2 separate regions of the Homo sapiens genome follow, and region 2 is linked to region 1. The links come from fine-mapping of genetic effects on gene expression. A gene starts in region 1. The other region holds a variant in brackets. All regions are shown on one strand. Distances are from middle to middle.

What was found. PIP is the estimated chance that this variant, and not a neighbour inherited with it, causes the effect.
Region 2: its variant is fine-mapped to the expression of RUNX3 in whole blood (TOPMed, PIP above 0.99).

Annotation. Positions count from the first base shown.
Region 1 is chr1:24,924,938-24,934,338 of GRCh38, forward strand. RUNX3 (RUNX family transcription factor 3) reads right to left here and starts at 5,339. Exons shown (of 5, transcript NM_004350.3): 1 at 4,650-5,339; 2 at 2,637-2,793. The coding sequence starts at 4,931. It overlaps RUNX3-AS1 (RUNX3 antisense RNA 1), which reads left to right and starts at 5,520. Exons shown (of 4, transcript NR_183341.1): 1 at 5,520-7,089. RefSeq lists enhancers at 1,864-2,133, 3,545-4,279, 3,928-4,107, 4,280-5,013, 6,453-7,042 and silencers at 4,578-5,017, 5,218-5,687, 7,358-7,577.
Region 2 is chr1:24,896,340-24,905,740 of GRCh38, forward strand. RUNX3 (RUNX family transcription factor 3) reads right to left here. Exons shown (of 5, transcript NM_004350.3): 5 at 3,172-6,327. The coding sequence ends at 5,783. Among named protein-coding and RNA genes, the nearest start is that of MIR6731, 18 kb to the right of the region's middle. RefSeq lists enhancers at 2,082-2,151, 4,242-4,291, 5,059-5,508, 5,839-5,908, 5,989-6,058. The variant G/A (reference allele first, on the strand shown) is at 5,362.

The DNA of each region.
Region 1 (9,401 bases):
TAAGAGCTCTGTGGTGTTACTGGGTGCGTGTCTTTCATGGAAAGCCATCTTCCTGGAATTCAGACAGAATGTAGAACTAAAAATTGAGGCAACAAGCAGAGGTTTCCATCAGACTTCTTAGTTCTGGCAGAAGTCAAGAGACCCAGGCAAGGGTTCTGGGTCCCAACCCCCAGTCTTAACTCCCAAAGTGTCCCATCTCCTAAAGTGGCCCAGATTGTCACTGTCAACCACTGACTGTTCTCTCAGGTGGGAATTTCCCAGTCAGCAGGATGGGCACTGCAGATGTGTGTCTGCATGCCAGCGGACCCGGCACCCTCCTTCCTCCCTGCCAACCGCCTCCACCTCTCCCACTCAGCAGTTCACACCTTCTGGGTTTCCCCCACCCCCGCCCAAACCACACAGTAATCAGAGAATCAGTGGCTGTCACCGCTCAAAGGGACCTCAAAGTCCTCCTCCAGTCCCAGGCATTTGAAGTAACAAAATCTCTAACATGTATCCAGCTCTCAATATGCGCCAGCTGATACACTTGTGTCAATTTCCCTAACCTTCCCAAAATCTCATGAGGTAGGTACCATTATCATCCCCATCTCACAGATGAGGAAACTGAGGCACAGAGTGGTTAAGTCATTTGCCCAATGTCATCCAGCAAGTCATTAGCAGAGCTGGGACTCAAACGCAGGGTGGCTGATACTAGAATGCAGGCTCTCAAAGACCTCGAGCCTCTGAAGGCTGAACGCCTTAGCCACAGTTCCTCAGACATCGGAACTCCTCCTCAGATCACTTCCTGCCTCCCAGGACCACTGAGACTGGTTATGGACCTCTGAGAGGAGATGGATGAGAGAATGGTTTATAAACTCAGCCTCTTGCATCTCCCAGAGCCACAGTCCCAGCCTCGGCCATTCCTGCTACAAGGACAAGCTCCCAACCAACGCCTTGGAAACCCATTTCCCTCCCTGCAGGCCTGGGGAGGGGGGCTCAAGGTCTGTGGGCATGAAAACCCCTAAAAAAATCATTCTCAGTGTGCAGAATGGCCAGACAAGGTCTCGGTAACTCAGAAAATCGTCGTCTCTTCTCTTTCTCTCGCTTCCCAGGAGAGAGAGTGGGAAGGGAGAATCAAGTTCCTGATGCCTTGCTGGGCTCCCAGATCGACAGCACCTTCTGCCCGCCTCGCAACAGGCAGCAGCTATAGTGCTCCTGACACATACCTGGGCTAGCAGACCTGGCCACTGCCCCGCAGTCAGCAGAGCTCATCAGCCTTGTCTGCCACCGACCAAGGACCAGTGACTGTCCTCTCAGGGTTGGGATTAAGTCGCAAAGGGTTTGAGAGATTGGGGATGACAAAAGGGACTTGGAGACTAATTAGGAGCAGCAATGAAAGCTTAATTCATAAAAGCAAACATTTTCCATCCATCAACCTGCAACCAGTTAAGGGCACCGTTTGAAAGAAATCTGTGTGTGGGGAAGGGAGCCAACAGGAACAGGAAATGTTTGAAAGAATGTAAACTATTTCAGTTTCATAAAAAGTAACAAGTAAACAGTTATTACATGCAAATAATGTCCTGGTTTTAATTAATGCTGAAAAGTCAAAATATGGCTGACATTTGTATGTATACATCGAACGGCTGGAAAGGAAAAAATGGTGCCCAGATGCCTGTTTCAGAGCGGGGCTGGCAGCTCAGAGGGAACTAGAACCTTGAGAAGGTCCTGTTTATTGGTGATGAAAAGCACGGTTCTGCTTCAGCCACTTCAGCCTGCTGTGGAGTTGGGGAGCAGAGGGAACCCAGCTTACTTCTTAACAAAGCTAGAGGCGGGCCTGGTGCTTGGGAAGGGCGACTCCCACTTCAGCCACTTCTCGTAGGCAGGCTGGTCTTAAAGGGCCAGTGGACCCTCAGGCCTCCGTTCCACAGGGGCAGGGTTTCCAGGACTTTCCCATCCAGGAGTTAAGTGATGATGGGTTTCAGGTCCCAGAAGCCTCCCATTCAACAGCCCCCCACCCCCGTCCCGCCTTCCTTCTGCTGCTCAAGGTCGGTCAGACAGGCAGGGTGGCACACCCGCCTTGACTCTGGGGCAGGAGATGGCAGCCTTCGAGCTGTGCTTTCCAACATTCAGCTGCGTTAGCTTCCGTTCTAGACCACCTAGGGCTCAAAGGCGCTGGGAAACTGGGTCTGGGAGACCACAGCTGGAGAGACAGCCTCAGAGTGTGGGGGATATTCTGCCCCCTATGGAGAGAGTGGCTGGGGTGCTTGGGCCCCACAGATCAGGGACTTGTCCTGCAACCGCCTTGCTGAAAGACCTATAAGCTCCCTTTTTGAGCTTGTTAATCCACCATCTCCTGCCAGCATTTTTTGTGAGACCAGGTGTGCTTAACCGGGAAAGAGGGGGTGGCATGAACGGTTTCAGGAGTTGGTAAACCCTAGAAACTGGGAGAAAATTGTCTTTTTCTGGCAAGAGACCATAACTTTCCTCACCTCCTCAAAGCGATCTGTAATATCCTACAGGATTACAAATTGCTGTTTTTAGACAGAGCTGCATCTGGAGACCTGTTTTTCGGGATTCTAAGGCCCCTCTTTCAACCTCCTTCCCTGCTGCCCCTGCCATTGCCAATGCTGAAATGGCGAGGCCTCCCTTCCACTTACCTCGCCCACTGCGGCCCACGAAGCGAAGGTCGTTGAACCTGGCCACCTGGTTCTTCATGACGGCCGAGGCATTGCGCAGCTCAGCGGAGTAGTTCTCGTCATTGCCTGCCATCACAGTCACCACCGTACCATCCGGCACGTCCCCCAATGCCACCACCTGAAGACACGGGGCGGGGGGATGCAGGGGGACAGCTTAGAAAGGAAGAGGGTGACCAGGGAAAGGAGGGGAGGGGCTGGGCTGGGCAGCTCCCCCAGGTCCCAGGCACACTGAGTATTTCTCCAATGCAGGGTGGAGAAGAGGCTTAAAAACAATAAAGACCTTCCCCCAAATATCACGAAAACAAGAAGATGGAATCTCGAGCTTCCACACCAAAATCCTAGATCAACTGCTTACATAAACTGTGTCCCAAGAAATCATCCTTTCAATGAAATCTAAGCCAGAGCTGTGAATCAGCTCAGTCACTATGATGTGGGGTGCAGTTCCCCTGTTGTCTTCGGCTGCAGCGAAAGAGGAATCAACATGCTCCTAGCAACGAAGTCTCCAAATGAGAAAGAGTAACAACAATAATAACAACAGGGCTGCTACCCCCACTCAATTTATGCAAGAGCTGTTTAGGGCATGAAATTTGGCCCTGAAATGTGGACCAGGCCCAGTTTATTGGCCTCTGCAGAGCCTAAATTCGTTATGCAGAGAAAATGCAGAATGCAAAACTCACTGGTGTTTTGAAAAAGGCCACCAGAAAACCCCTTTAAAGTGAGAGTGGGGCTTTTGATAATGGAAGGATGCACCTGCCGGGAATTGCAGGATGGGGGTGGCGATGTCCCCCTAAACACCATCTCCCCCAAATCCCCCACCCCCAGGAGCACGGAGAGGCGGATGCCTTTTGAAAAAGAATCAGACTTTAAACAGAGTCACAACTATTTAAACGTGGCCGCCGCGTGCAGGGACTGGGGATCCATATGGTAAAAATTTCAAGGAGAAAATGTTTGGGATCTGATTAAGAAGACCAGATTTCCTGTCAACATCCTGTCTTCTTTTAATTTCAAAGACTCCTTTTAAGCTCCAAGTGACAGTAAAACCTCCGATCTGACGATTAAAGTCACACGGGCCTCCCGCCCCTCCCGGCGAGATTTCCCCCACTGGTATTTTAAGATGTCACCCGGGAGACCTCAAAGAGCCACTCTTCCTTTTTTTCCCATTTAGAGTCGTCTTAATGGGAGCAGGGACGGCCTCAGCTTCCAGCCACCTCGGGCAGCACCACCCCCAGCCGCCGGCCCTTCCTGCCCTGCCCTTTTCTCACGGCAGCTGTGAGAGGTTTAGGGGAAAACCGAGGCGTTTTCGTTTCATCTCGCTGCCCCCTTAAAAAAATGAAAATGAAACAGTCGCCTACTCCCTGGCATAAAGAAAAAGGTCCTCTAAATGGCTGGGGGCTGCCAGGGTTAGGGGTCCCCCAATCTCAACTCGCCATTCGGGACGCATAATATCCCCGAGCAAACGTCTGGAGAGCAGTGCCCCGATCCCGGCCTAGCGCCGTCCGGTAAAATTTCGGAAGCCCGAGGGTGTGAGCAGGAAGCTTTTGCGAAGCGGCGCGGGAGGAGGGGTGCTGGAGGCGGAGGGTAGGCCCTTTCACCGTTCGCACCCCACCCGCGGTGTCCTTGCCCCTGTCCCGGGATCCTCTTCTCCGTTACCCGCAGGGCTGTATCTGAGCGATCCGGGTTAGGGGGGCGCAAAACCCCATCCGCCCATTTCCGCACCAACGTCTCTACGCAAGGCGCCCCAAAACCCAGGTGGAGCGGGGCAACCCCGTTAAAAGTCATTCCTGCAGGGCGCATCCAAAACGGAACGCCGAGGTCCCGGAGCCGAGCGCGCAGCCAGACTGAACCGGGTGCCCGGGTGTCGCCGCGGCGTCTCGGGCACCTCCCATCCCCACTGCTCCCGAGGCTCTGGCTCCCGCAGCTCAGACGCCCGGAGCCCCAGGGCCGGCGCCCTCCCGCCCCGGGTCCCGCACTCACCTTGAAGGCGACGGGCAGCGTCTTGTTGCAGCGCCAGTGCGAGGGCAGCACGGAGCAGAGGAAGTTGGGGCTGTCGGTGCGCACGAGCTCGCCTGCGTGGTCCGCCAGCACGTCCACCATCGAGCGCACCTCGGGCCGGGCGCGCCCTCCGGGCCCCACGGCCGCCTGCGCGCTCAGCGCGCCGCTGTTCTCGCCCATCTTGCCGCCGCCGCCGCCGCAGGGGAAGGCCGGGGAGGGAGGTGTGAAGCGGCGGCTGGTGCTTGGGTCTACGGGAATACGCATAACAGCGGCCGTCAGGGCGCCGGGCAGGCGGAGACGGCGCGGCTTCCCCCGGGGGCGGCCGGCGCGGGCGCCTCCTCGGCCGCCGCTGCCGCGAGAAGCGGGAAAGCAGAAGCGGCGGGGCCCGGGCCTCAGGGCGCAGGGGGCGGCGCCCGGCCACTACTCGCCAGGGCCCGCCCGCTGCGAGGCCTCGCTGGCCCGACGGCCGCCCGCAGCCTGCCCGGCTAGTCCCGCATCCTCGGCGCGCGGCCCCGCGTGCGGCCGCCCCTCGTGGCTGTCCCGGCTGCCTGGGCCGCGGCGGGGCCCGCGCGGGGCTGTGCCGCTGCCGCCGCCTCCCGCCCCGAAGCTCGCCCGCGGCCGCCCCGACTCCGCGGCCGCAGCCCCAGAACAAATCCTCCAGAATCAAGTGGCGGGGCCGCGGCCGCCCGCGCGGGGTTAGTACCCCCGGGGCCCGCGGGGCGGGGCTGGCGGAGCGACGCGTCGCACAGCCAATCGGCGGAGCCCCCATCGCGGGCACCTCGGTGGCGTTCGCGGGGAGGAACGGGGCCTGCCGGAGGCCGCCCAACGGGGAGGGGCGGAAGGCGCCACCCCGCGGAGGAGGCCCCAGTGCCACAGCCCAGGGCCCCCGAGAGCTCTGGGAGCCCGGGGCAAATGCTAGAAATTTGCTTAGAACGTCCGGGTCCCACGGAAGGCGCCCTTGCCGCCCTCTCTCGGGTCGTAGCTCCCTGACGCTGGGGCGCAACCCCTTCGCTCCTCCTCCCCGCTGGCCGCGGCCGGGCTTCCCCAGCTCTTGCTGCTTCGGGCCTGTGACTTCTGCAACCCCGGGCTGGGGGCCGCGGGGTCTCAGGGCCGGTGACGCCGCACTGGGAGCCGCCCCAAAGAGGTTACTCACCTCCCTCGTCCCGCACATTATTCTGACCCAAGAGCCTCCACCCCACACGGGATTTTGCGCGTCGTCCACGCCCGGCCGGCGGCCTTTGCTGCTCCCAGCCCTGCGCGGCTTTGGTCCCAGCCTCGGTGGCCCCTGTGCCAAACCGGGGACAGGCGGAAGGGAGTCTCCTAGGGACCCTAAGTAGCCTGGGGCCAACAACCCCTTTCCTCTCTGCTCTCCCCTCAAAACAAGTTTCAGGATCTTGCAGGCCTCGCGGCGTCGTTCTTCGTTGTGGCGGCCTGTGGCTCTTTGAAAAACACGACGAGGCCTGCAAAATGCGTTTTTCTTTTTTTCCTTTACGCATGTAACCACGGTCCTGCATCGTGAAACGGTACGCGCGTCGGTGGCAAAAGAAAAACAGCAGTGGCTGCAAAGCTAAGGGCCCTCGCTTTCAGAGGAGAGAATTTTCTTTCTCCATGCGGGTGGAAAGTGGCCTCTGCGGGTCCAACCCCACTTCTTCTTGGGCCCGTGCGCTCCGGCTGCGCCGCAGGGACCGCGGACAGCTTCGCCAAGGCACTGCCTGCCCGCCCGGCTCCGGGTCCCCGCTCCCACTCCCAGCCGCGTGGCCCAACCTCTCCTGGGCTTCACTGCAAATCACCCCTTCCTCTCCCGCCTCCTAAGTCTGTCGAGCAGACCTAGGGGCCGGCTACAGTTGGGAGGGCAACGGGAAAGATCAAGCCACAATCATTCCGAATTATCGCCCCAGACACCTCCCTAGACTCTGGGGAACGAACGCGTGCTGAGCCTCCCCGCCGCTTTGGAGACGGGGCTAGATTTTCGTTGCCTCCGGCTCTCGACAGGTGCAAAACAATGAATTCCAAGCCTCGGAAGCAAAGAAGCTTAGGATCCGACGGTGGCCGCAAGATCTCATCATGGATCTGACCCCTGCTCAGCGCGCGCCATTTCGTCGTTGCCAAACGAAATCAAGCCCCGCGTGCGCTCCAGGGGCGAAGGACTCTGGACTCACCCCGACCACCGGGAGAGCTGGCCCCTACCCACCTCGGGACCTCACAGCACGCCCTCAGGCCGTGTCGAAAGGAAGGACGGCAAAGGTCCCTTACTGAACCTTTTAAGAGAGCCTGCGCCTGGCAGTTGTCGATTGCGGACCCAGGCCCGCGCGCCCTCGGACGCGCTGGCACGAGCAGCAGAACTAGAGGAAAGCGAGTGATCCAGCCTGGGCGCTCCCACCTCCGGGAACGTCTCCGAGAAGGCGCAGCGCGTCGTGGCCAGGTAGGGCCCTGGCCGGGGGCGGGCAACACGTGCTGCCCTCGAGCAGGTTGCGGGACCATGACCCGCTGTTTCAGGTGGTGGTAAATTCCATTTGTCGAATGGTTTCGGTTTGCACCGTGCCCTTTGCTTGTTCCTCCGCCTGATTTCTCCCTCTCCGCTTACGATGGGTTCACAGACAAGTTTCCAGAGAATGAGGGACTCTTGTGGGCCCTGGCACCTGGCGCAGGGCCCGGCACGGCTCCGGCTCTCCGTAGGGCGCTGGCTCCCCGTGGGCACCAGATCCAAGGGACCAGGGCGGCGGGGGGAGGGGGGGCGGGTGCAGGCCCTTGGGTCCCCAGACCAAGGTCGCGGGGCCGCCTGGCAGGCACAGTGGCGGGAGCCGCCGCTAGTTGGCGCCCGCGCCCTGCCAGCCGCGGAGGTGCGGGCCCGGCCGGGCTACAGATGCGCGCCAGCTGCGGCCCCGGGTGCAGGCGCGGCGACCGCCCCCGAGGAGCTGCCCTTTCCTTGCCATCCATGCGGCCAGGTCTCAGACAAACCGATGGCTTTGTGTCAAACCAAGGCCGCCTTCCTCACCTCTGATAAGATGGACGCCTTCTGTCTTCGCGTTTTCAGGCACCCGGGGAAGACCCACAGAACAGGCTAGCTTGTTCCCAATTTCCACCTGCTTCCTCCCCATCCCGGACCGACAAAAATTGTCGTCTGTTTGATGGGAGGGAGAACTCCGACTCCCCCACCTGGGGCATGCAGACACCCTCGCCCTTCCCCAGTTGGCATGGACCGTCGTCTTTTCTCCCTCTTCCATCAGATCGATGGACAAACAGGCCAGTTTCTCCCCAGTGGCCCCCACCTAAGAGCACCCTAAGTTGTCCACAGCAGGGCTAGGAAGCAGAAGGTCAGGACACTCCCCTACCCTACCTTGACTTAGAGCTGGGTAAACCCAGAACCCATCCCCGGGCAAATAGAGCCAGCTCCTTTGCCCCAGGAAGGGGATTCGTCTCCCTCTGGCATTTAGGAGTGCTCTCTAAGTGCGTTCTTGGCAGTGAGGGTGCCGCCTTCCCAGGGCAGGTGTGATTCATGTGGACTCTGTGGCGCCTGGGCAGGGATCCCCAGGTATACCAGACAAGGGGCAGGTGTGCCCTGGGAAACCGCCTAAGAGGTCCATGGGCTATGGAAGGAGCTGGGGTCCACAGTCCCTCTGCCTGAGCGTGTCTTTTTCCCTCACCCACAGCGCTCTAGGGAAAGTTGCCTAAACCTCTCTGAGCCTCATTTCTTTCATTTGTAAAGTGGGGCACTCATAGTGGCCCTTCATAGAATTGTGTGTAAAGTGCTTAGCACAGGCCTGGCACATGGAGGGTGCTCCAGCCTCCGGGAGCCATCACTGTCATGAAAAAATAAGACCTCTCAATCCTTGCTGGGGGCCTTTGACCCACCCCTCCTCTCTCTGGGCCTCACACTTCCATCTGTGAAATGTCCAGTTCTCATATTCAAAGCTTACTAGGACTCCAAGCCAGTCCATGCTGTCCTGATCCCTCAATTCGCCCACAGGCTGCCTGGGGGAGGTAAGGACTGGCTGTGACCTACCTCCACGTGGAGTCAGCTCATAGCGGGGTTTCCAGCAACCATCACAGGGCGGCCAGAGCTGGGTCTCGATGATTGCCTGTCTGACCATTCCTCTCAGAACCTCACTTTCGCCCCCAGCCGGCCGCCCTCCTGTGGGCAGACCCTTTCCTGAGTAGCAACTGGGCCTCAGCGGACACTGCCAGGGACCCCGTTTCCTTCCCAGGAGGCCTCTGTTCCCCATATCCCGAATCACACAGGAGCCTAGTCCAGCGAAGAGAGCAGAGGACTCTCTTCTAGAACTGAAAATTTCTCCCAGCCTGGCCCTAAATCCCCTGTCCAGAGGGACCCGTGGTGAAACCTATCTCCTGCCCAGTGCCCTAGAACTCAAAGGGGACATTCATGCCCCTCACTGAGCCTCAATTTCCTCTTCTGTCAATGGAGGTCATTCTAACCACTCCATTTCACGGGAGGGGGATTAAGGATTCCCTCTAGGAGGGGAGGGGCATCATTGTGATTGATGATCGATTGTTTGAAGAAACAGAAAGAAAATGCTGCTGAGTAAACTAGGACTCATCTGCATCCTGATTTCAGATAATGATCTCTGAATATATAAGCGAGAAATGTTAATGAAAAATGGCAATATATCTGGGTTGAGGGGTTGTCTCCTGTAGGCCGGGGGTCCAGCTCCAGAGAGTCCAGCTCTGGGGTCATCTATCCTGGGCAGCCTCTCTGGAAGGATTCAGAATGTGTGG
Region 2 (9,401 bases), 29 kb before region 1:
CATCCAACACATACATCTCCGCTTGGCTCCCCCGTGCCACTGACCCCTGACATGGATCCTCTCCCACCTCCCATCACCATTGCGCCACTTGCCCCACCATCCTCCCAGCTCAGCGACACCTGGTTCTCCAGGCCTTTGCACATGGGATTCCCTCCTGCCACATCTCTGCTTGATCCATTCCTACTCATCTTTCCATCTGATCTCGGGGGAGAGACATTTTCTCTGAGGAGCTTGGCTTGTTTGCCCTGATCCACACTGGGCTGGCACAACCTGCTTTCCTGTCTGTCTGCCCTGTGAGATCCCTGAGGCCATGGCTGTGACTTGTTCACCTTGTTCTTGGTGTCTGGCACCTGAGGGTGGGGTGGGGCTCTGTGTCTGGTGAATGAGTGAATGAATTCTGGCCAAGGCCTCAAAGACACCCAGCCCAATGAGCTGAGTGGGGTGGTGTGGCCCAAATGGTGTGTTTGGACACCAGAGAGCCCACATTGCTGCCAGCCGTCAGGGTGGGCACAAAGGAGGGTAGTCCAGGCCGGCTCCAGGGCTGCCGCACTCCCCTTCCCATGATAGGTCCCCTGGGCCAGGCCCAGGGCAGGCCCTTTCTGTGGGTGAATATAAATATATAAAACACACAGCGCACTCTTAGCTGCAAAACTAAAAATAGGAAGCGCGGGATCCGGCTCCCCAGGCTTCCCCAGCCACTGGACCACACAGGTGTGGCTGCGGATGTCGGGGCGATGTGGCCCCTCACCCCTCCCAGCTCTGGAGCCCTCATGGGGAGGAATGAGGGGCATTTTGGATTTCTGCCAGGAACAGTTCATTCTTTCACTCTGGCCTCCCTCCTGCCCCCGTCCCATTTGACAGCTCATTTCATTTACGACCCCAAAATGAACCGACCCACTGAGGTGTATTCTCTACTCACGTGGCCAGGCTGGGTTGTTTGGTGCAGCTGAGAGCTGCCCTCTGGGCCATGCTGGGGGGCTGCATTTATGCGGGGGTGCAGTCTGGAGCAGAGGAGAGGCCGGGGCTGAGGAGGGAGGCAGGGCTGGGTCTGCATCCAGCCCTGCCCTCCCCTACCCACGGCACTGGCCCCACCCCGCGCCATCTCCTCAAGCCCTCACCAGGCCCTAACGTGGGAATGTGTCATCTCTGGCCTGTAGCCTCACTGCCAGGACATCCATTGCTCAGTGTAAAAGCCAAAGCCATCCCCATGGCCACAGCCCAACAGTGGCAGGGCTGCTCCTAGGGGCCGGCAAGGCGGGTCCATCTGGGCCACTTCACCCCACAGGAGGCCACTTCTGGGAGCCCCCAGGCCACAGCCGGCTCTCTGGGTCCATCATTGGGCCCATCTGGGCCAACCTCAAGCTGTGGGGGCTGAAGAAACTGGAGGGACTCAAAGTCCAGCCCAGATCAACAGGACTCCTAGAGCCTCCAAAGCGGAATTCTGGAGTCCAGGGGCTCCCAGGCTGTGGAACTAAATGGCTTCCTCAATCTGAACTGGCTTCTACATGACCTAAGCTCTTGCTGGTGGCTCAGGGGACATGGGTGGGGCTGGGCCCAGGGTCCAGGAGGCCAGGGTTGTAAAACTATGAAAGTCAACCCTGCCTTCAAGCCAGGTACACCCTGTCCCAAAGCAGACGATTATGGGGTGTGGGGTCCTACTCCACACCTGGCACACGGCCGGTGCTCATTCAGCGTATGACCAAAAAGGGAGACTCAGAGAGGGACAGGGACCTCCCACTGCCACACGGCTCGGGAAGGGAAAACCTTCCCCACATCAAGACCTTTAGCTGGCCCTTTCGGGAATGAGTCACCTGAGGTTGGGAAGTTCTTCTTAATACCTTACCTGAATTCTTGCTGTAACCAAGGCAGCCTCTCCTCACCCTTGTCCAAAGGGGATGATGTCCACTCTCTCCACCTGCTGCCCAGGGATGCCGCCCCCTATTGCCACCTGCAGGCTGCTGTGGCTACTGCAGCACTTCCTCCCGCAGCCCTGGGACCTCAGGCAAGCTGAGACTTCTCGGGACCTTGAGTTTCCCCTTGGCAAGCTGGGTGTGCTGGTTCGTGCCTGCTAGGGTGCAGGTGATGGAGATTTGAGTCAGGAACTCTGGAGGGCACAGCTCCTCTCCGATCTGCTGTGGCACCAAAGTGTGCCTGGTGAGGAGTGCTACCATCCCCTACAAAGTGACCCCAAATAAATAGAAACAGTTTTGGCCATGTAGATGCCGTTTCAGGACCAACCCTGGCAGAGGCTGCCCAGAGCAGACCAACAGAGAAGTTCTGTAGCCACGGCTGAGGTCCTGTCCAGAGATGGACCTGCTGTCTTTTGGGTAAAAGGGGATGCCGGGCTAGGGAAATGGAAGCTTCTTGTTGGGAGCTGAGTTTCAGGCAGACCAACCAAACTGAGCAGGGCAAAGCTTTGGGAGTGGTTTTTGAAGTCGGTGGGCATCACTCAAAAATAAGGTCTGTTTTGTAAAAATTTCCCTTCACAAATCCCAACTGGCCAGGCTCTGGGCTGTGTGTTGGTACAAATCCCAAGTGGACCAGGCCTCCTTGCTGGCAAGGTGGGAGGGGGGCTGTCAAGCCAGGTCCCCACACCATCACACCCATGCTACCATTGTTGGGCTGTGGTCCCAGTTCAGCCATGGACAACCCCAGGGAGACATGGACCTTGATGACACTCCTTCTTTGCACCGCAGTTGTCTCATCTGCAAAATGGGGGCACTGAAGTTGCCGCTTACTCCCAATCCCCACTGCTGCTAGCTTGCCACAGATCTTGAAACACGAGCCTCAGAGGGGGGTTCTCACCAAGGCACTTGGACTCTCCCTCTGCCTCTGCCCCCTCCCGAAATGTGAATCTGAGGAACAGGCATAGGAATTCCTCCCAACACGGCTGGGAAGACTCACAGCCCGCTCATGATTGGTGGAAGGGTTGTGGCACTTTGAAGACCTATTTGATGCTCTCCTGGGGTCCCAGCCATACAGGAGCAGGCCTCACCGGCTGTCCTGTGGCCAGGGTGGTCTCTGCGGCCATTCCTGAAGAAGTTGGAAGCAAGGAGATGAAGGTGCTGGGTGTCTCTGTTCCTGTTCCTCCTGGGCAACAGCAGGAGGTCTCCATCCTCTCCCCCACCCCACCCCACCTCCATGCATAGCCCTAGAAACCGGGCACTGGACTCCTTCCACACATCTCAGAGTTATATTATTGTAACAAATCAGTCAAAATTCCATTTTACAGTTAAATAGTACAGAAGACAGTTTACTGTACAAGCAAGTTGTGCGTTAAAAACAAACACCAAGCAAACGATAGTGCAAAGCAGTTTCCACCCAGCTCCATCCTCTCGCCAGCTCTGGGATGGTTTTACATCAGATGAGTGCAGCAGGTGTCACACCTCAGCATGACAATATGTCACAAAAGATTGGTACCCACTACTGACAGGCTCACAGTAACACTATATCAAAACGTCTTCCTTTCCTCGTGCTTCCTACATCAGTGTGTTTGCCTAGTACAACTTTAACGCAGCCTTGTAAATAAGGACCTACTTTTACCAGCCCAGGCTGTCTGTACCCACTTTGGGCCTTACAGACTCAGTACGGCTGCCGTCACTTTTTGTCAGGGGATGGGGGATGGGGTAGGAAGAGCAATTTATTTACTATCCCTGCCTCTCCAGGATCAGGAAGGGTTAGTAATCTGGGATGAGACTACAAAGTGCTGGGCACTGGGAACCCAAAGGTGCCTCCCACGCTGACCTGGGACCAGCTATAACCAGAGAACAGGAGGGAAGAAACTACAAGGACAATGGATTCATAGCTGCTTCCTAAGAAGGCATGGAGAGGCCCCTTGGGTGCAGGGAGTCAGCAACTATTTTGAGGAGATGGAGACTGTTTTTCCAGTGAGGACAGGCCAAGAGAAACCGCAGCAGGAGGGAATGGAATAGGATCACCAGAAGGACTGCCTAACCTGCCAGTGTGTCTCTGGTGTATGGTTCTGGCCGTTGTGACAGGTTGGGTGGGGACAGTGCTCTCACAGAGACAACCAATGAAGAGCATTTTGTAGGGCAGATTTCTGCATCCACAGAGGCCGAGGCAGAAAGTTAAAATACCGCATGCTGCTAGCCTTTATGAGTTCCCTTACGCCTTTTCTAAGCCTTTCTAGGGCCAGAGAACTCTGATGTGAGAATCCATGCAGCCTGGCCCTTGGGCAAGCGCCCACTTTCCCATTTTGCAAAATTCAGGGGCAAGACTTCACCTCGGAACGCAGTGCAGCTGAGCTGCGGCTGGAGAGCCCTTTACAGTGCTTCTGTCCTGCCACGCACAGCCAGTACTCCCCACCTCTCACATCCTGCCCACCTCCGCCCAGCCTCCTGGACAGATGTCCTAGAGCCACAGAGGAGAGATGCCCAGCGTCTCATCAGCGTTTCCCTCGTCCTCCCAGGGGAGCCTGTGGTGCAGGCTGGTGGGATGCTGCCTGATGGGGAGTGTAGCCCCTTGAGAAAGTATTGAGACCCTAATAACCCCACACCCTCAGGAGGCAGCTGGGGGTCCGCGGGGGGGAGAGGGGGCGGGGATGTTGCTTATAATCACAGAGCTATCATAATCACGGAACTATACCTGTAAGAGACCTTGTGTTTGAAAACGTTAGATTAAGCTTCTTTTTCTAAAATCAGTTTTAAAAACTGTTTTGTTTTTTTTTTGTTTTTTTGTTTTTTTTTTTTTTTTGCTCAGGACTATTTGCTTTCAGAGCACAAAACAGGTTACAGACAGGTGTGTGCCAGGAGTCGCAAGATTTGGCTGGATCCTCCCAGGAGGCTTGGGGGATGGGGCACAGCTTGGCTGGACCCAGGGGGGACAGGGACATTGATGTCTGACCCAAAATGATCCCTCACCTCAATGCCTTCTGCTAGGACCTATCTATCTGGCCCTCCTGTTCTCTCCACAAATGGAATTATGAGACCACCTAGGGGAAAGGGGACCTCCTATCCCCCCTCCCCCGCCCTGCCAAGAGAACAGAGAGTGGATGCGTTGAGCTGGTAAAGTGCATGGAGGAGCCGGTCTGTAGGTGCTTTCCTGGGTTTAAGAACCTGATGCCATAGACTCATCTTCTCTGGGGCCTGGGACCCGTGCGGCTGGGGGAAAGCCAACAGTTAGGAACGGAGGGGAAGCTGGGCTGGGGGGACTGGCTTGGATGTGTTCTCAAACCATCTCTGCCAGCAGCGTGCTGGGTCCTGCCCCATCTGTACAATGAGGGGAACCCCGCTCGAGGGTGGTGGGGGTGGGGGACACTTTCCAGTTCTGACTCAAATCTGTGTAAATGCAGAGGGGGCTGGACCCAGGGGATGCAGGGGCTCCAACGAAGGTGCAGGGGTC[G/A]GGAGGTTTCCCAGGGCCTGAGGCTTATCCTGTGGGCCAATGCTGCCTCTCTCTGGAAGAGAGATGGCCTCTGTCCCAGGAGACATGGGTCCCATGCAGCACTGGGCATAGCTGGAGACAGTGAGGTCCTTCCGGGGGGGTGGCAGGAGGCTGATTCCCCACAGAAGTATGGGATGAGACGGCCAGGATCTGGGCCGGGGGCAGTATCCCGGGCCGGGGTGGGGGTGGTAACCTATGCCTCTGTACAAGGATGTGGCTGCACAGATGCAGCCAGAGGCTCCCACCAGCTGGGACCACCCTGGGACCGAGACCACCCTGGAGCGCAGGTCCCATTCCCGCCCGGAGCCTCGGAGCCGGCCCATCACTGGTCTTGAAGGTTGTTAGGGTCCCCGCCTCCAGCGGGAGGAGTCCACCAGGGCGGTCAGTAGGGCCGCCACACGGCCTCATCCATGCGGCCTGGCGTGCTCAGGGCCGTGGGTGAGTTGCTGTGGCTGCCGTCGGCCTCCACGCCATCACTCTGGCCGCCCAGGCTGGGGTTCATGAGGTTGCCGGCGGCGACAGAGGCAGCGCTGCTGGTGCAAGAGGCCAGCATGCGGGTAGGTGAGCGGTCGCCCCCACTGCTGCTGCCGGCCACCATGGAGAACTGGTAGGAGCCAGAGGATGTCCCGTAGTAGAGGTGGTAGGGGGACGGGTTGGCCTGGAAGGGCCCGCTCTGGTTCTGCGGGGCCCCCGGGTAGGGTGGCGGGAGGTAGGTATGGTGGAAGCGGCTGGTGGCCGGCATGCCCGCCACGCTGAGGCTGCTGATGCTCGTGCCCGAGGGCGTGGCGCTGTAGGGGAAGGCAGCTGACATGGCCCCGGGATAATGCATCCTGGGGTCTGGGAAGCGGCTCTCCGTGAGGGTTGGCAGCGTGGGGAAGGAGCGGTCAAACTGGCGGGGGTCGGAGAATGGGTTCAGTTCCGAGGTGCCTGGAGGACAGCAGGGAAGAGGTCAGTTCCAGCTCGAGACAACCCCAGGAGGGCTTCCTGAAGAATGACCTTGGGCTCTGGTTCCCAAGGCCCATCTGGGGGACCCCTAGTTCTAGACCTGGCTCTCCTCTTCCTGCCCTAGGCTGCCCGGGGCCTCCCCCGCCAGGACTCCGAACACAGACCTGCCGGGAAGCTGGTTGGAGCGTGCCCCGGGCCAAGAGGGGCCATGGGAGCCCCCCCACAGCAGCAACAGAACAGAGGAGGGGGTCTATTCTTCTTTTTAAATCCTCCTTCCCAGCCTCGCAGAGGAGAGGCCTAGGATGCGGTGGTGGGGCTGAGGGCAGAGTCAGCTCAGGCCTCCCAGCAGCCCTGCCCAGGCAGGTTCCTCTCCCCACCGGCCCATGTTAACAGCTGGGAAGGCCGTGGATGTGTAAAGGGCTCCAATGACCGTGTGAGACTGGGAGTTGGAACCCGCTTTTGAAGACAAGAAAATGGAGGCAGAGAGAGAGCAAGACTGAGTCTCTGTGGCAGAGAAAGGACTGGTTCTCATCACAAGGCCTCTGCTGGGGACACACGTGCCTCTCCTGCCCAGGTGCAGCACGCGGAGGTTCTGTGCGCTCACACCTGGGTTGTGGGCACTGAGTTCACAGGAGCTCTGGCCTCCACCTCACCCTGGGCCTGTGTCTCTGGAGCCGACTCGTGGCCACACAGTGACTGGATGCCACCCTAACCTGCCTTGGCAGCAAAGTGAGACAGCAGTCAGACAAACTTGGGGACCCAGACCCCAACCTGGTCACAGTGTCCAGCCCAGACTCTGCCCCTGCTCCCCCAGGAATGTGGCTTCTCAATGGGCTCCAAGGCAAGGGTGTTCCATCCTCTGTCCCCAACTTTTGTCATCACAGACCCCCAAAACCTCAGCATTCAAAGGGGCTCAGGGATTGAGTCTAACACCCTTGATGGGGAAACTGAGGCCCAGACAGGGTGAGGCACTTCCCTCAGGGTCACACAGCACATTGGACCTGGCACACAATCCTAGGGCCTCTGGTCCTGAGCCCCAACACGTACTTGAGAGGGAGCTGTCCCGTCTTTGAGGCAGCACAGGATCAAGGCTTACTGTGTGGCTTCTGGAGCCGGACAGTTATCCTGGTTTGGACACTTACTAGCTTTGTGTCCTTGGGCAAGTCACTTAACCTCTCTGCGCATCAGTTTCCCCATATAAAACATGAGACGATAACAGTTCATCAGGATTCAGTTAATTCACATCGAGTACTTAGAATGGCACTGGGCACAGAGCAGGGGTCCATGAGGCTTTGCAAGGCCACTGTGGCTGTGGTGTCTCTTACTCTGGGTACCCAGGAGAACTGGCTCATTCAGGGCCCTGCCAAGTTGAGGCCCTGGTGCAGGGCCTCCCTTCTACTCTGGCAGCCGGGGGAGGTGGATGAGCCCCCAGCAGTGGTCCAGAGGTGCAGTCTGTCCAGCCCAGCAACCCCTCTGTGTCACCCACCAAAGGATAAGGGCCGGTGCTAGCCGGAGTGGGCTCTGCCTGCCACGCCGAGGCTTGGCTGAGGACGGAGAGCTATGAGCCTGAGGTGTGTGTGACTTCGGCTGGGACTTGGAACTTCTCGGGGCTTTGGGGTCTTCCCAAGTCAGCTGGGGTATGTTTCCCTCAGCAGCGTACTCTGGCCCTGGGCGTGGATCCGAACGGAGTGATGCTCCTGGCTTAAGGTAAGAAGATGTGGGGACAGCAGTCTGGGTGGCGGGGGCCTTCTGGGACATCTGGGATGTTCCCTAGTAGGTCACTTGGCTGTCCCGGCCCCTTGAGGCCGAGAGCCTCCGAGGCACCTGGCTGCCAGTTTTCATCTGGGGAGCCCCTCGGGGGGAGAGGTCCTGTTGCAGGTGCTGGGCACGTCAGCACAGCTGAGATGGGTGGGGTGGAAGTGGGTGCTGGCCGCCTGATGGGAACCCCATTCTCAAGACGAAGGAAACAAATGGGGACCGCAGGATACAACGGCAGGACTGTGCCCCTCAGAGCTCACGCGGGCTGCAGGGCGCTGGGCTGGGCCTCCCTGGACCTGCCACCATCCCCTCCAGCCTCTTTCCTCAGGGCCACCACCCCTCCTCCGGGGTGGTGGGGGAAGTACCTGCCCTCAGCACTCCCTCAGACCCCCCAGCAGCTTCCTTGGAGCTCCTGTACCCCCACCCTGCGGCCTCGCAGCCCCAGGAAACCCGAGCTGCCCGGGGCACTGTCGAGTGGCCAATCCCAACAGTGGAAAGAAATGTTTATTTTCTTCTCCAGATTGTCCGGGCTGCTGCATGGTGGCTGAATGAGCCCTTTCAGCTGTGAGAAGCCCCCATTGTGGGCGGCTGCGGCTGGGGGCTGGGGCTGGGGTATGGGAGGTGCTGGGGTCTCTGCACTGCTTGCCAGTGACCAATATTGGAGGGTCAAAGCACTTAACAGGCACCGAGGGAAGTGGTGGTGGGGTGTCCCAAGGGGGATCCCCAGGAGGGAGTCCGAGGGCAGAGGGAGGAGGGCCTGTGAGAGTGACTTCCCAAGCCTAGGTCTGCCAGCAACCCCTCTTTGTCAGGGACCTCCTTCTCCCCACTTCACAGATGAGAAAACTGAGGCTGAGTTTAAGTGACTTGTCTAAGATCATACAGCCAATGCCTGGCAGAGCCTGAATTCCTAGCCTGGTCCAGCTGACTGCAGAGTTCATGCTCGCCCTGTCCTGGTCATCCGAGGCCCTTTCTCTCACCCAAAGGGGATGGGCCTGAGGATGGAGATGCCTGGCTGCCTGTGGCCCAGTGCTGTGGGGGGCTAGCGAGGGACTGGGCCAGGCCTCAGGAGGGAGCAGGCAGAGAAGCAGAAGTCAGCCACTGCCCCACACAGGCTGGGCTCCTTTCCTCCCAGCCCAGGATGGAAGCAGCAGCTGTGCCTGCCGTGGGGCCAGGCATTGATTCCCAAGCTGTGCCCACCCAGCAGTGGATGGGCAGATGTGGGCTCTCCTTCCATGGGGGCTGGTGGACAGGAAGCCACTGTTCACCCCACCTCCTGGATTCTGGCTCCCCCGCTGAGC